2 separate regions of the Homo sapiens genome follow, and region 1 is linked to region 2. Evidence: fine-mapped expression QTL. A gene starts in region 2. The other region holds a variant in brackets. All regions are shown on one strand. Distances are from middle to middle. Region 1 has its middle 41 kb from the start of KCNH2. Region 2 holds the start of KCNH2 (potassium voltage-gated channel subfamily H member 2).

Evidence for each region.
Region 1: its variant is fine-mapped to the expression of KCNH2 in whole blood (INTERVAL, PIP above 0.99).

What each region holds. Positions count from the first base shown.
Region 1 is chr7:150,933,355-150,941,475 of GRCh38, forward strand. No RefSeq gene overlaps it. Among named protein-coding and RNA genes, the nearest start is that of KCNH2, 41 kb to the right of the region's middle. The variant G/T (reference allele first, on the strand shown) is at 4,302.
Region 2 is chr7:150,974,220-150,982,340 of GRCh38, forward strand. KCNH2 (potassium voltage-gated channel subfamily H member 2) reads right to left here and starts at 4,102. Exons shown (of 15, transcript NM_000238.4): 1 at 3,619-4,102; 2 at 492-722. The coding sequence starts at 3,694. It overlaps LOC124901776 (a long non-coding RNA gene), which reads left to right and starts at 1,099. Exons shown (of 3, transcript XR_007060592.1): 1 at 1,099-1,256; 2 at 2,317-2,492; 3 at 2,626-3,136. RefSeq lists silencers at 237-306, 407-456, 847-996, 4,770-5,119 and an enhancer at 1,474-2,400.

The DNA of each region.
Region 1 (8,121 bases), 41 kb before region 2:
GTCCTCCAGGAAATGTCCCCTCCTCTACTGCCCCAAGCACCACTAACAAACAGCAATGTGTGTGACAAGCGTTTACTGAGGACTAGGAGGGTAACAGAACCACTGGGGCGAAGTAACCTAACACTAAATGTCGAACATCAATTTTCCTAAATATTCATTGGCCATTTCCCACCAAAAAATAATTCCGCACGTCTTCATAGGCCATGGAAGTCTCTTCTCCCTCTCACCGCTGGGCCTCATCTCTCCCAGGATGCCCTTAAAGACTCAAAAGTGTGCCAGGTGGGGTGGCTCATGCCTGTAACCCCAGCACTTTGGGAGGCCAAGGCAGGCGGATCACTTAAGGCCAAGAGTTCAAGACCAGACTGGCCAACATGGTGAAACTCCGTCTCTACTAAAAATACAAAAATTAACTGGGCGTGGTGCTGCACACCTGTAATCCCAGCTACTGGGGAGGCTGAGGCACAAGAATCACTTGAACCCAAGAGGCAGAGGTTGCAGTGAGCCAAGATCATGCCACTGCACTCCAGCCTGGGCAACAGAGTGAGACTCTGTCTCAAAAAAAAAAAAAAGACTCAGAAACGATTCCTGGTGTACCATCTCTGACCAGCTCTCACTTACCCAGGCCCCTCTCTAAGGACCTCATCGTTAATAACCAAACAGACTACAGGGTACTTCTGAACAAAAGGAGCCATCTCTTCCTCACAGGAATAACCTGCCTTTCTCCCAGGACATTCAGTTTAAACTACAGTCAGCTTTTAAAAATATTTTTACTGTTAATATAGAAGACAGAAATGGCTGTTTCCACTTTCAGTGAGAAAACATTGAGGTAGGAGGTGAAACCAGGCCCCGCAGTGGCTTGCTGTCACGTTGTGTAGGGGAAGAAGGCAGCTGGGAAACCCCTCTTCCCAAAAAATCATAAAGAACAGGCCTGGAGCGGGGTTTCTGAGCCTCAGCACTATGGCCATCTGGGGCTGGCTGATTCTCTGTTGTGGGGGCTGTCCTGTGCCTGCAGGATGTTACTGGCCTCTACCCACTAGATGCCAGTAACAACCCATCTACCACCACCCTGAAGTGGGACAACCGAAAGTGCACAGACATTGCCACACATGCCTGGGGGGCAATATCACCTCTGGTTGAAAACCGTGGACTGGAGGAAAGACATGCCTGCCTGGACATAAGAGCAGGACAAGACAGCCTGGTTTTGTTCCTTCTGACCTGAGACTGTCCTCACCCTCCCTTGAGGTCCAGGCCTGTAACTGGGATCCACTGGCAGGCAGCCAGAGAAGTGGAGAGATGGGTAGGGTGAGGGCCTGGGAGCTCCAGCCAGATGGTGATTATCCAAATAAATATTGATTGAAACAGATTCCACTGTTTCCCTCTTCTCAAAGACATAACACCTTCTGCGGAAATGAATGGGAGCAGCTAAAGGGCTCCGCACCATCCCTCTCCAACCCTGGAGAAAGAACCCCACGCACAGGCCGCCCAGCACATCAGATACCTTCACACCCAAGAACAGGCCAGGCCAGGCATGGTGGCTCACACCTGTAATCCCAGCACTTTGGGAGGCTGAGACAGGTGGATTTCTTGAGCCCAGGAGTTCAAGACCAGCCTGGGCAACATGGTGAAACCCTACAAAATACCAAAAAAAAAAAAAAAAAATAGCCAGATATGGTGGTGCTCACCTGTAGTCCCAGCAACTCAGGAGGCTGAGTTGGGAGGATCGCTTGAGCCAAGGGAGGTTGAGGCTGCAATGAGCTGTGATCATGTCACTGCACTCCAGCCTGGCTGTCAGAGGGAGACCCTATCTCAAAAAAAAAGAAAAAAAAAAGAAAAATCTGGGTTTTACAAAGCTATGTTCCAAGGGTTGGGAGCATCACAGTTCTGCATTTGTGGAATTGAGGGGCCAGAGCTGTGTCCTAAACCTGGCCCTGACTCTATTTCTATGGCCTTGGCAAGCCACCTCCTGCCTCCGGGACTCCATCTCCTGCTCGGCATGGTAAATAGATGGAGCCCTGCACTCTCAAGAGCCTTCCAGTCTGCCGGTCTCAGCTCCCCAGCACCTGATCCTGTGCCCCTCCCAGCCTCCAGTGATCTATCGCTTGATAAGTTTTCTCAAAAGCCCACTTTCCAACCCTGATATTTTCAAGTAGCCAGTCAGCTTTCACTGAGCTCTGTGACAATGACAAAAATGGACAGAATTAAAACCCCAGGTTTCTATTTCCAATCCTCAGGGGCGGGGATGTTCACAAAGACACCTTCAGGCAGTGCCACTCTGCTGCTGGTCCTTCGTGCACACCTCTGGAGAGAGACTTCCTCAAACAGACCCTCACTTCATCTCCACCGCAATCTCAGCCCTGGCTGCAAAGAATTTATAGTCGTGTTAGGTAGACAAGACTAACACCACATTTCTAGTTTATTTCACCAAAGGTGAAATATTCCACCTTCTCCACAACAGCAACCAGGAAAATTTATCCCCAAAATAACATGTTTTATATCAGGTCTGTTTCATAATTTTAACCCTTAACCTGTGTTTTTAAATTTCACTTTAAAATACAAAAAGATGTGGCCGGGCATGGTGGCCCACACCTGTAATCCCAGCACTTTGGGAGTCAGAGCCAGGAGGATTGCTTGAGGTCAGGAGTTCAAGAGCAGCCTGGCCAACATGATGAAATGCCATTTCTACTAAAAATACAAAAATTAGCCAGGCATGGTGGTTCACGCCTGTAATCCCAGCTACTCGGGAGGGCTGAGGCAGAGAATCGCTTCAGCTGACATCGCCCCACTGCACTCCAGCCTGGGCAACAGTGTGAGACTCCATCTCAAAAAATAAAATAAAATACAAAAAGAGCAAATCCATCATTTACATCTGGGCCACAGTGTCCCTCCGTCTCCCTCTGGCCCCGGAGCACATGGCCATCTGGTTGTGCTGACTGTGCTGGGTACGCTGACTGGTCTATCCGCAGTCCATCCTGGCCCCTCACACACCTCCAGGTGCTAGTGTCAAGACACCTGTTATTCCCTCCATGTCATTCCCAGGAGCTCTCATGGCCGCATCTCCAAGAGCCAAGTCCCTGCCCCATCCTCCAGAGCCAGTTTCTAAGGACCCCACCTCCATTCACAACGGCACCATTGCTATTATGCAGCAATTAATGACTTAAGTTGAATTTTCATCAGCCTGGCCCTGTCTGAGAACTTAGCAGGCAACTGGGACCCTGCCAGTCTCTATGTGGGTCAAATGTGTCCCTTAATGATTTCTGAAAATGAAAACAACTCGATAACGTGTTTAGGATATGAGACTACTGAAGCCCCATTGGTAAGTTCCTTAGACCACAGAGAACACAGTATCAAAGTCAGGCTGTGAGCAAAGAGTGGACATCCCTCCAGTCCAGATAACCCTGCCCCTGCGGGCTTTGCAGTAAGAACTGAAAGTTCAGTCCTTCGGGTTTTTAAAAATATTTTTTCTGCTAATATAGAAGACAGAAATGGCTGTTTCCACTTTCAGTGAGAAAACATTATCCAGGTGTGGTGGCACACGCCTGTGGTCTCAGCTGCTCGGGAAGCTGGGGCGGGAGGATCACTTGAGCTCAGGAGGTTGAGACTGCAGTGAGCCATAGTTGCACCACTGCACTCCAGCCTGGGTAACAGAGGGAGACCTTGTCTCTTAAAAAAATAATAATTAATTAAAAAAAACTGTTACAGGACCAGGCACAGTGGCTCACGCCTGTAGTCCCAGCACTTTGGGAGGCCAACGCGGGTGGATCACCCAAGGTCAGGAATTCGTGACTAGCCTGGCCAATATGGTGAAACCCCACCTCTCTATAAAAATACAAAATTATCTGGGCATAGTACCGCATGCCTGTAATCCCAGCTACTCAGGAAGCTGAGGCAGGAGAATCGCTTGAACCCGGGAGGCAGAGGTTGCAGTGAGATCGTGCCATTGCACTCCAGCCTGGGCGAAAAAAGCAAAACTCAACTCCATCTCAAAAAAAAAAAAAAGTTACAGGACGGTGTGGCTTTGTGTGTCATGCAATGCCACAGAGGATAGCTGTAGACTGACAAGGGTTCATGGAGAGGCTTTATGGAGAGGGCTGCCAGGAGCCAGGTCCTGGAGAATGAGGAGGACTTGAATAGGAATAAAAGAAGCTCTGTTAGGCACTTCATAAAAGTGGGGCCATGGTCATTTTCTTTTATTTCTCTTATATGGTCCCAGCTAAATTATGAGCTACTGAAGGGTGCGGTTGCATCCCATCCAGCCTGCAGCAGGACGGGAAGTGAGGGGCCGTGCTGCTCTGGAAACTCCT[G/T]CCTTGAGCAACTTTAAGCCTCATTCCCCTCCACTGAAAAACGACGGGGTAGACTGTGCTCTCTCATGACTTTTGGCGACTTTCTGTGATTCTAGGTGGGGCTCAAGGAAAACATTTTAAGTGAAAGCTCTCCTGCCCTGGGTTGGGGTATAAAGTCTCCACGGGGGATCCCGGGCATGGTAAGCACCCACAAGGCCCAGTCTGCTCTGCTAGAGTGAGGCCACCTGGACAGGAGCCTCACCAGCACCGGATCCAGCTGCGGGGCTAACCCAAGACCCAGGACCAAGGAGACGCCACCCACAGGGGATGCTGAGGAGAGAGGCGTGTCTGTCCTGCTGCGTCAGTTACGTCCACCCTGCCAAGCACTTCAGCCAAAGGAGCTGCCTCTTTGCTAAAGTCACTTTCAGCTTTTCTGCACTTTTTCCATTTCTGAACCACAAATTTGGCAGTTACCCAGAACATTCAACGTTTACCAGTTGGTGAAAAGTTAGCAGGAAACTTCGAGGAGTTTGTCCTCAGCAAGCAACGCTGTGCCCCAACACCTCCTCAGTCATGTCTGGTGTGACTTGAGTCTCTAATAAGCAATGGCACTTGCCGTCCCCTCCAAACACTGATCCTTCACCTGATGCCTGAGGTTGCAAGAGGATAGGCTGGGCTAAAGCTGCAGCAGCTGCCTCGGCAAGTAGGAAGCTAATTGGCTCAGGAAGGGATATTCCTAAGACCTGGGCTTTGCAAGCCGTGAGCTGAACAGCTCAGCCTACGATCACGCACCACTTCCTGTGCGCCTCAGGACTGCCTTTAAGGCATGACAGGAGCCACTGAGCCAAGCCCAGCCCAACCCTCAGACCTGCACCAGGCTCTGCTCTCCCAGGAGATCCTGTGCCTCCCATTCAGCACAGTTCCTTTGCAGCTTCCTCATCCTCGCCAGCTCCGCATCTCTGCAACGTGCTGCCTCATTATGATGGCTAATTATTATTATGGGAAAACTGCTTGCTGACCAAGACAGAAGCCATACTGCAGCCTCTCCTCCCTTCCAGGGCCATGTTTTAATTCCTCCCTGGGGTTCATCAGATGCATCTGGATAGCATCCCAGTGGCTGTGGGAGGACAAGGAAAAAGGTCACCAGTGAGGTGGCACTGACAGGGTGGCCAAGAACTTAGGGCTTGAAGGTCTGGGATCATCTTTTAAGTTGTTTTCTGGCCTGTATCATGAGGTAACTTCCCCAGTGCTCACAAAGGCCCCTCACATTTTTTTCTTTTTGGAGACAGGGTATTTTGCTCTGTTGCCCAGGCTGGAGTGCAGTGGGGCGATCATGACTCACTGCAGCCTCAACTTCCTGGGCTCAAGGAATCCTCCTGCCTCAGTCTCCCAAGTAGCTGGGACTACAGGCACATGCCACAATGCCCAGCTGATTTTTTTAATTATTTTTTTAAGAGCCTGTTGCCCAGGCTAGTCTTGAACCCCTGAGCTAAAGCAATCCTCCCAGGCACAGGAACCAGCTGCATGCTTAGGAGCCAGTGCCTGCTGACTCCAATGTCTCAGGTGCCTTGACTCAGAACATAAGCCTCGCCCCTGCCCCTCAGGCATCCCCAGAGACATGGGGTGGCACTAGGCACATGGGCTCAACCCATTTCTCAGTATCTGAAAGAAAAAGCTCCCCCAGGGCCAGAGGATGGAGGACAGCTGAGTCCCTTCACTCATTCCCATGTCGCCTAATCCTCATTCCTCCATGCTCCTTTCTCCAGCCTGAGAATAACACTTCCCTAAGGTCACTTAGAGCCCCACAGAAAGCCAAACTTCTCAGCGGAAGAGTCATCATCCCAGGGCACCCAGGGTAACTTGACATTAAATACAGCCTCTCTGCTAAGACTTCCATTCCACCTGGGCTGCTTAAGTCCAGGAGACCACCCTGATTTGACCTTCCTAGTGTCCCTCATCAGCAAGTTCCATCTGATTATCTGGCTGCCATCACCTGGTAGAGCAGAAAGGGGAAGCAGAGCTGTCACATATGGTTGTGTTGCTATGAGAGCCCTCTCCAGACTGTTTCCCTAATGACTGATTTTCTTGCCAGTTAGCATCTAAGTCTTTTGCAGCCAGACCTTATGCTATTGCTAATTTTAAAATAATGGTAAGAGGATCATGCTAAATTCTTCTGCTCTGGTTTCTTAGCAATGTCTCTTGCAGACTTCCAACTCACTTATAAGGTGTGATTATTAATATAAAATAATGAAGCTGATTATTTAAACAAGTGCCTCAGAATGCATTCTCTTTTTCTTTTTTTGGAAGACAAAAGTTAACAACAACAACAACAAAAAACCTAGAATTGTACTTGGATGTTTAGTAATTCAAAATGATTAAGAAGCACCCTCTTTAAAATGCTACTGTAATAAAAAGATCAAGATAAATTGAGTTTTGGGGGTGGGAGGGTTGGGTTTTTTTGAGACAGGGTCTGGCTCTGTTGCCCAGTCTAGAGTGCAGTGGTGCGATCTCAGCTCACTGAAACCTCCGCCTCCCAGGCTCAAGCTGTCCTCCCACTTTAGCCTCCCAAGTAGCTGGGACTACAGGTGCGTGCTATCATGCTGGCTAATTTTTGTATTTTTTTGTAGAGACAGGGTTTTGCCATATTGCCCAGGTTGGTCTCCAACTCCTAATCTCAAGCAATCCACCTGCCTCGGGCCCCCAAAAGTGCTGGGATTAGAGGCGTGAGCCACCGCATCCAGCCTTAAATTGAGTTTTTATCGCTTAATACCAGGCATATATGCAGCTTTAAGAAAATAGTTACTATTTAATCTTTTACTAAATCAATTTTCACACTAACCACTCTTTAATGATATACAATTATCTAAAAATGCCTCAAAACAGTCACTTTGGAAGGCCCTGCGTTTTCCGTTTATTTCAACATCGTTGAGCACTTGAGAGACACTAACACACCACATGTGTCCTCTTATGGTCCTTGTGTTGTCAAGCTGCCAGGACTCCTACAAAGAAATACCTCTTCCTACAGCAGTGTAAGCTCTCACTGAAAAGCAAGTTCAATCAGGTTTCAGTTTCCGGAAGACTGTCCACCACCAGGGGAAAAGGTAGATCCCACAGACCCGAATCTGGAACTGCAAAGCCCCCGGTGTAACCTCCCTCAGCCTTGACCATCGAAGGACAAATGAACAACCACCCAGAGGACGGTGAGCTGGAGCCCTCCACTCAGAGGCCACCTGGAAACTGGAAACTGGGAGCAAACCCCCCTGCAAAAAAGTATCCCCAGTTCCACCTCAGAGGCATTCCAGAGCATGGGAACAGGGTGGGGCCCACAAGCCCGCAGACTGGGGCAGCCATGGACAGGCCCCAACATTCAATCTACAAAATGAATGGACTTGAGGCTCTCGGTCCAAGTCTCTGGTTTATCCTCCCCACTGCTCCCGTTATTCTCTTTCAAATATTTAATATTTACCTTGGTTGTGCTAAAGTAAAAAGAAAAAAAAAGATAAGCATGTGTAGCCACATTGCCAGTGAAGGAGTGGGGCTTGTGCTCCCTGGGGAGGCAGGCGGGGAGGCAGGCGGGGAGGCAGCCATAATCCAGAGGCCAAGCCTTTGGGAAGAAAGTGACCTCCAGGGACAGACGCAAATTTTAGCCCAGCCAACTCTGTCAGGAAGACATCTCCCTTTTCTGTGCAAAATCCTCAAACATGGGGTCTTGTGGGCTGCCTAGTGGCCACATCAGGTCCTGGGCACTGTGCTAGATGCTGGGTGGGAATAGGCGAAAAGATGACCAGCATTCAGCCCTTCCCCTTTACGGAGGACAGACGAGCAAGCAGGCAGGGTGTGG
Region 2 (8,121 bases):
ACAGCCAGAGTCCTGCAGCCCTCCTGTCCCTCCATGACATCTCCCAGACCTGTCACCTGGCAGCAACTGCCCTAAGGTAGATAGGGGCCTGTGCCCGGATGTCAGCGCACAACTGCCAATCTGACCTTTAACCTCCATCCACGCACGTACCTGCCATCCCAGCTCGGTCTAACTCTAGTCCAACTTGCTCTACGTGCCCACACCTGCCCAGGGAAAAAAAGGACCAGAGGAGCCAGACCCACAGCCTAGCAACTCCTTTGCCCTCCTGAAAACCATCTCAGCAGAGTGAGGCGCAGGCCCCGGAACCGCGCCTCCCACAGGCACACCGCAGGGCCCCCGCCCGCGTCACACCCCCACAGAACCCTGCCCGGGCTCGGGGCGTTCTCCAGCCGCCCCCACACCCCCACACCCCCACGCACCCTGCCCCTCGCCGTGGTCCCGCCCCTCTTGACCCCGCCCCTGGTCGTGGCCCCGCCCCGGCCCGCTCCTACCATCTTTCCGGTAGAAGGCGATTTCCACTTTGCGCTCCTCGGCGCCCAGCAGTGCCTGCGCGATCTGCGCGGCAGCGCGGCGCTGCGTGCGCGGCCCGTGCAGGAAGTCGCAGGTGCAGGGTCGCTGCATCACCTCGGCCCGCGAGTAGCCGCACAGCTCGCAGAAGCCGTCGTTGCAGTAGATGACGGCGCAGTTCTCCACCCGAGCGTTGGCGATGATGAACTTACGGCCTAGGGGGGCGGGGAGGAGAGTGCGCGTGAGCGGGGACCCCAGCCTCCGGGACTCCCAGCCCTTCCCCACATTCTCCACTCACACAGCCGCCCGGGGACTCCCCGCCACAGGAAGCATGGCTGGGACTGGGGTCCCAGCAGGGGGCGAACGCAGCTGTGCGTGTGCCCCGATACAGGTGCCTGGCCGGCCGGGCCGCGCGGCGCGCCCCCTCCTCCGCCTGGCCCGCGGGCGGGCTGCGTGGCTTCCCCCGGGCAGGCCGCCAGCAGCCCGCCGCCTCCTCCATGCCCGAGGCTGAGGCCAGCCTGGCGGGTGTCAGCAACGCGTGTCAGCAGCCGCGGCGGAGGGATAAACACTGGGCCTAGAAAGGGAGCCTGGGAAAGGCCAGAGATGGCGGCCAGGATTCCCTTTGCATCGGCTCTCTGGATTCTGCTTTTAATTTCCCTGCTCTCCAGACTGGGGGGCGCTCCCTGAGCCACTCCTTATCCTGAGGCTCCCTAGGAAATCACTCCCCGATTATCTGAGGATCCTACCAGGTCAGTACCCCCTAGAACTTCTGCACACCACCCCCGCCCCAAGGGCAGTCAGGAGCTGAGGGGTGGGTGTGCCAGAGAGGATGAGGGAAGTTACACGTTGAACACCTAAGGACGCTGCATCTCATTAGGTCCTCTGACAACCCCATAAGGTAGGTGTTATTATCCTCCTTTTATAGATGAAGAAACCAAGGCTCCAGAGAAGTTCGGCACCATGCCCAAGTCTTGCAGCTTGTAAATGATAGAGCCAGCTTTTGAACCTTGGTCTGGCAGAGGCAGAAGAATAAGCTGAGGGTCACAGGCAGAAGCCCAAGGTCATAGGAAGCAAAGAGAGGGACCTGCAGCTCCAAACCCTGGACACACCTGGAGCCTGGGCGGGGCCTGAGACTTTGGCCCCACTTGTAGGAAAACAGACCCAAGAAAGGGGACCTGCCCAGGGATGTGAGGCCTTCCTCAGTTTGGCCTCATCCTGGATGAGCACCCCCATGGTTCCATTTCTGCCAGACTTGGCTCCCTGACTCCAGGCCTGCCCGGAGAGCCAGGCTGGCGAGTGAGCAGCAGGCAGGCAGCAGCCTCACTTGTGCCAGGCAAGATGCTCCTGGGATAAGAGCTTTTTATAAACAGAAGTTTCCGGCCACTTTGGCCTGTAATGCTGGGGCTTTCAGTAGCAGTTGGAATTCTCCCCCTCCCTTCCCCTCCCCTCCCCAGCAAGCATAGCCCTCAGGTTGCAGCCCTAGGCAATCCTACGTGCAAAGCTGGGCTGCAGCAGGGCACCCTGAGATAGGCCCAGGCCATCAGGACTTGGCCTCCTCCCACCTTTCTCGATTCTCCCTTCCCCTGGCCCCCAGAAAGTTGCCTTTTGGAACTGGTTCATCTTTTGGCCAGTTCCCAAGGCCCCCCAGACCTCCCAGGCAGCCATCAATTCCAGGAGTCAGGGTTTCCTGTCACCTGAAAAGACCCCCTAACTCGGCCTCCAGCTCTGCCACAGTCCAAGGCAGTCCAGAGGCCCAGCCACACACCCCAGCTTCATAGAAGAAAAACCACCCCTTGTCCTCTCTCCCAGGCTGGGGAAAGAAGAGCAAGTTTCTTCGAAGGCATGCCCCACCCCACCACACACCCTTCACTGAGATCCTGGAATACAGGGATGGGACAGAAAGCCTGCCCCTCCTCCACAGACCTGGAACCTGAGACCCAAAGAGGGAAGAGTCACTCAAGGTCACATGGCAGTCAGTGGCAAAGGTAGGGCTAGAATCCAGCACCCCCCCCCACATCCATCCCAGCCTCCTCGTAGGCCCGCCCACAGCCTCCCCCTGGGCCCACCCCCACCTCTCAGGGAGGCCCTCAACCAGTGTCATTGTCTCCACCCCCTCAGGATCATCTTGTTCCTCCGCTTCACACAATACTGACCATCGGACTGACCCCTCCTTCCCCCAACCACCGTTACAAGCACGCGTTGTCCTGTGCTCACAGGGTCATGGACAAGGAATGTCATCCTCTCCCAACTCCCAGGGCCCTTGGCAGTCACACCCACTGTGGCTCATGCAGCCTTAGGGACAGGCACATGAATGCTGCCCACCCCCAGGACATTTGCCTAATCTGGGACCCTTCTAGAAGCCTCCCTACCAGGCAGGCATTAGGGGTGCTGTACTCCCGGTCCCCATAAGGGAATTAGGTGACAGTCTCCAGGGCAAGAAAACCCACAACTTGGGGGTACCACAGGGAGCTGCTTACCCTCAAAGCCCAGCTCTAGCCCCAGGACACCCTGTCTCCACAGAGCCCACAAGCTCGCAGCCTTGTCAAAGACACCTCCCCACCGCCCATACAGGGTCTAACTCACGGGTGACACATGGGCTCAGGGTTATATACACACGGCACACACAAGAAGAGATTATGAGCTGACCCTGCATCCACGGCTTTTCAGTCCCTCCGGCACAACACAGTCAAGATCTGGCAAGACCAGTGTGCGCGCTGGACTCTCGGGATCCCAGGGTTTGGGTCGTACACACTCTTATGCCCTTGCACACAGCCCCATCCACGTCCACGCACCCAGAGTTGGGGACACCTGCACACTCCATCCCACATCCCTTCCCTGCACACTCAGCGTGTCACACACACTCCGATCCCAAAAGCCTGAGCTGAGTTTCCCGCCCCAAGCCCCAACCCCAAACCCTTTGGCCCGGTGCCCACGGCCCCGGTGCACCAAGCCTTGCCCCCGCCGTCCCCTCGCCAAAGCCTGGGGCCCACCAGGCCCCATTGACTCGCACTTGCCGACGCACACGGCCCGGGCACGCCCCCCCATCCACACTCGGAAGAGCTCGGCCCGCCCCCAGAGCCCCCTCCCCGCTCAGCCCCCTCCCCCACTCACTCTGGCCCTCAAACTTGCGGATGATGGTGTCCAGGAAGGTGTTCTGCGGCGCGACGTGGCCCCTCCGCACCGGCATCCTGAGCCCATGGGCGGGCCGGGCGGGCCCCCACCCACCCCGGCCCGGCCCGGCCCAGCACTAGGCTTCGGGTGGCCCGGCCGGGCCGTGGTCCCCGCACCCCGCGGCCAAGCCGAGCACGGGCGCGGCCAAGACTGGACTGCGGGCGCCGGGTCCTCGCTCGGCTCCCGGCTCCCCGCTCCGGACCCCGGGCCCGGCCTGGAGCCGCCTGAGCGCGAGCCGCCCGCCGCCGGCACACCTGTCTGCCGGCCCCCGCCGAGCCGCGGGGCCCGCTCCGCCGCGTCCCCGCGCTGCGCTCCGCCCGCCCGAGCCCCGGACTCCTGGCTCCCGCCTGCCACCGCGCCGACAGCCGCTCCAGCGCCCGCGGCTCGGGCAGCGCCTGCGGCTCGGCCCGGCCGCGGAAGGGTTAATGCGGCGCGCGCCCCTCCGGCTCCGGCCCCCGCCTCCCGGCCCCCTCCCGCCTGCCGCGCGCCCGCAGCACCGCCCTCTCCCCCCCCCATCCCGCCCCACCGCGCGCGCCCGACCTTCCCATTGGCTGAGCCGCGCCGAGTGCTCCCCCAACGCCAGCCCCTCGCTCTGCCAAGGAGCCCCTGGGACTCGCGCGCCCAGAAGAGGGGGAAGGGACCCTTAGGCAGGGGAAACCGTGAGGACAGGTGCCATGGCCGGCTTGTAGGCGGCCGGGATGGGGGAAGGGATTCCACCCCCACCCCAGATTAGCGACTAAGAAACCTGATTTGAAGGGAAACGGCGGGTCCTTATGCCCTGGTTCCCCACCACGCCGAGCACTGGCTTGGTATACACAGCACGCGCTCAGTGCCTACTGTGGGTGACCGGGGCAACGCCTGGACCCTCGAAGACGAGCCCGGAGTCAAGGGAGACCCTGGAAATAGGAAAAGCAAGACAATCTGAAGGCCCCAGAGCAGCAGAGCTCTGAAATAAGGGAGGGTTAAACTTAGAAGGGGCACGCCCCCTGCCCCAACACACACACACACACACACACACACACACACACACACATACACACACACACACACACACACACACACACACACATACACACACACACACGGAGAGAGAGAGAGCCCTCTGTGGGGCTCTGCATAGGAGCTGCACAGAGAGGGACATTCTGACAGCAGTTGCGGCCTCCTAGCTGCAGGATCAAAGAGAGGTCCCTGAGCGCGAGGTTCCAACCAGGGGATCCCCGGGTGCGAGCGGCCCGCCCTCCCCCGGCAGCCCGGGGCCAGCCTTGCACGCCCAATCGGCGGGCTCGGGGCCCTGCGGCGGCGGCCACGGCCCAGCCCCTCGGAAAGCCCTGGCCTAGCCGCAGGCCCCTCCCCCCGGCCAGCTGGCTCGCTCCAGCTGCGGCTCCCTTATTTAGGCAAGGAGGCCTAGGGATGCTCAAGGGCAGGCGGGGTGTCTGCCCCGCCGCCTGCTCATCGCCTGCTTGCGTCTGAGTGAGGGTCTCCGGGCGCGGTGTCCTCGGACTTAGCAGTCAGGCAGGGCCCCGGGAAGGCCAGGGCGGGGAGGCGAGTGTTGACAGCTGAGTGGGCGGGCGGGGAGGGAGGAGTCGCAGCTGAACAGCCGAGGGTCCCCTCCCTGCAGCCGGATCAGAGACCTGTCTAGATGGATGGGGCCATGTGGGGGCTCCTGAGGGCTTGCAGCTGCCTCTGTCCTTGGAGCAGGGGCTGGGTCTTGTCACCAGCGAGAACCATCATGGGGGGAGGGGAAGAACAAAGGGCAGGGAAGGAATCGGAGTCCCGAAGGAGGAAGGCGCAGAAAACTGTCGTCGTGAGACCACCCTACCCGGACTCTCACCTTCCACCCAGGAGCACAAAGATGCAAACACTGGGGCCAAATGGGGCCACTGGCCAGCAGATGACACTCTTTTTTATTTGCTGGTGGGTGGGCAGTGACTCAGGGAGGCAGCCAGTGGGAGAGAAGGAGGTGGCTCCACAGCTGATGCTAAAAAAGTCCAGAGGCTCTTGCCTGTGCAGTTATTCCTCAGGCCCTCTCCACTGCCAGCAGTTTCCTCACTCACCCCCCCGGGGGCCCAGGGCCTTCCACAGCACAAGCTCCTCCTTGGTGTAGCATTTGGCATCAGGTGCATCAACACATCTGGGTTCCGGGTAGAACCTAGTCCACGACTGGCCCAGCCCCCGCCACGCCCCAAGGCCACCCCTGGCTGCTGGGTTGCCTACCATGAATCCAGGATGATTCATGTGTGAGTGAAGTGTCCTCCTGTCCAGGCCAGGGGATGGAGAGAAAGTGAGCAAAGGCCAGCAGCTGAGAATGGGCATGGGAGGGCAAGAAGGGAAAGGGACATCTGTAGCCTCCCCCTCTCTCCAGACCAAGGGAGAGGGAGAGCCAGGCCCTGAAGGGAAGGAGCCACTCATCTGAGCTGGCCAGCTGTCCTCCACTCCTGTACCCGTGTTGCTGGGACAGGCCTCTGCTCTTATCCCAAAGGGAAGACAGGAGTCAGAGGAGCCCTTCATCCTCCCAAACAGAGAGGAGCCCAGGCACGGGGTAGCCCTCCTTCTGTGCACAGAGGCAAGAAGAGAGCTGTTCCCTCAAGCTGAGGAGAGACAGATCTCTCCCTCTCTCCCCCCAGCCCACTCCACATACTCAGAAGTCAAAGCTGAATGTAGATTTCTGACTTCCTTGGAGGCTCAGGGTAGAGCCTGAAGGCAGACCCACTTAGCCGCCCCCACACTCAAGAATTGAGCTGAGGAAGAGAAACGGTGAGAGGGGGCAAGCTCTCCCCAAAGCAACATTTCTGGGCCTCAGATGAGCTGATGGAGAAGCCCCCACTGCCTTCAACTTCCCACCTCTGCTACCCCCAGATCTGGGACAAAGAGAAAAGTGCCCAACCCTAATACCAAGAGCTGGGCTGTTAAGCCTCTAGAATCTGCCCCACCCCCATCTCAGCTCCAAGAGCCATTTCAGAGACCATTCCTGGGAAGAGCTCTCCCGCACCCTGCCTGTGACTGAGGGAACAGAGAGGCTACAGTGAGATATCCAGGCTCCTCCCAGCTCCCAAAAAGAAACAATTTAGGGAGAAAAGTCTGCAGAAAGCATCCTACCCACCCTGCTCTCTGCTCCTGCTCAGTCCGAAGGCATGGAGCCAGGACATCCTGGAAGGAGAAAGAGAAATGGAAGCCCACTCTGCCAGAGGTCCCCCAAGGAGCGGGCCAGGCAAGACACCACCAAAGTCAGGCCCAGGAGAGCCTGGGGTTACCCACAGGGGATTGGGAAGCAGTTCCAGTCGGCTGGGCACAGGAGAGACAGGTTACAGAGCAATGGTTCCTGGGAAACCCTGGGGAAGGAAGAACAGAGTGAGCAGGTCCCTTGATGCTTGAACACGGTGGGTTTTTTTTGTTTTTCTGTGCAACTGGGTCCCCAGAATAGAGATTTTTTTCAGATGTGAACTGGAGTTGGAGAAGAAAAGAATCAAAGAAACAGCATGTTTCCCCTCCAGAAGTGGATGATCAGGGCTTATTGATAGAAAGAAGGGAAGTAGGAAGGAAAGAAAGAAGGAAGAAAGGATGGAAGGAACCCGCCTGAAACCCCTAGCCAAGAGCCAGGACACTCTTCACTCATCGCCCTCTGCAGCTCCACATGTAGCAATCCTGCCAACCCCTGGTCCATTCCAAGGTCTTCTCTGGACAACCTGATCCCCACCTTTGGTGGGACATTTTCCCTGCCTTTGTGGTGTCAAAAGAAGCAAGTAAGGCCCTGGAGACTAGGATTCGGGAGATCTGACTTCTAATTCTGGTTCTGCTACTAGTTGCATCGACAAGTGTTTACTGGGGGCTTTCTAAGTACTGGGCCCTGTGCCAGACACTGCTGGGGGACAAGAGGGATAAGCCAGGATCCCTCCTCCAGGGATTCACAGTCTAGTGAGTTTTGAGGGAGACGGTGGGCAGACAGAAACTGCAGTCTGCAGTCAGTGCTGTGGGATTACGAGGAGGTGTTGGTTAATTTCAACCGGAGGAGTCTTGGAGGGCCTTGCCAGGGAAGGAGATTTCAGTGCAGGTCCTTGAACGTTGGAGGTGGGGCAGGGCAGAAGCATTGCAGATAGAAGAGACAACATAAGGATATATAAAGAAAGGAGAATGGAGATTGGGTCTGAGGACAAAATAATTTGATGTGGTGGCAGTGGAGCAGCAGGCTGGCACCATTTGCAGAGGGATGAGGACTATGAATTTTATTATCTCTGCAAGGGGGACACAGTAGTGGCAGGAAACAGTAAGGAAACAGTAGTGGCAGCTGAATGCAGAATCCATGAATGTAAATATTCTGTCTTTGTACAGACCCTGGCAAAGAGTAGGTATCCAAGAAAGGTTTGTTGATTGAATGAAACGTGTATAATAGTTTGGAGAAAATGAGGTGGATATGAGGTTTTTCCATTACCTATTGCTGCATAACAG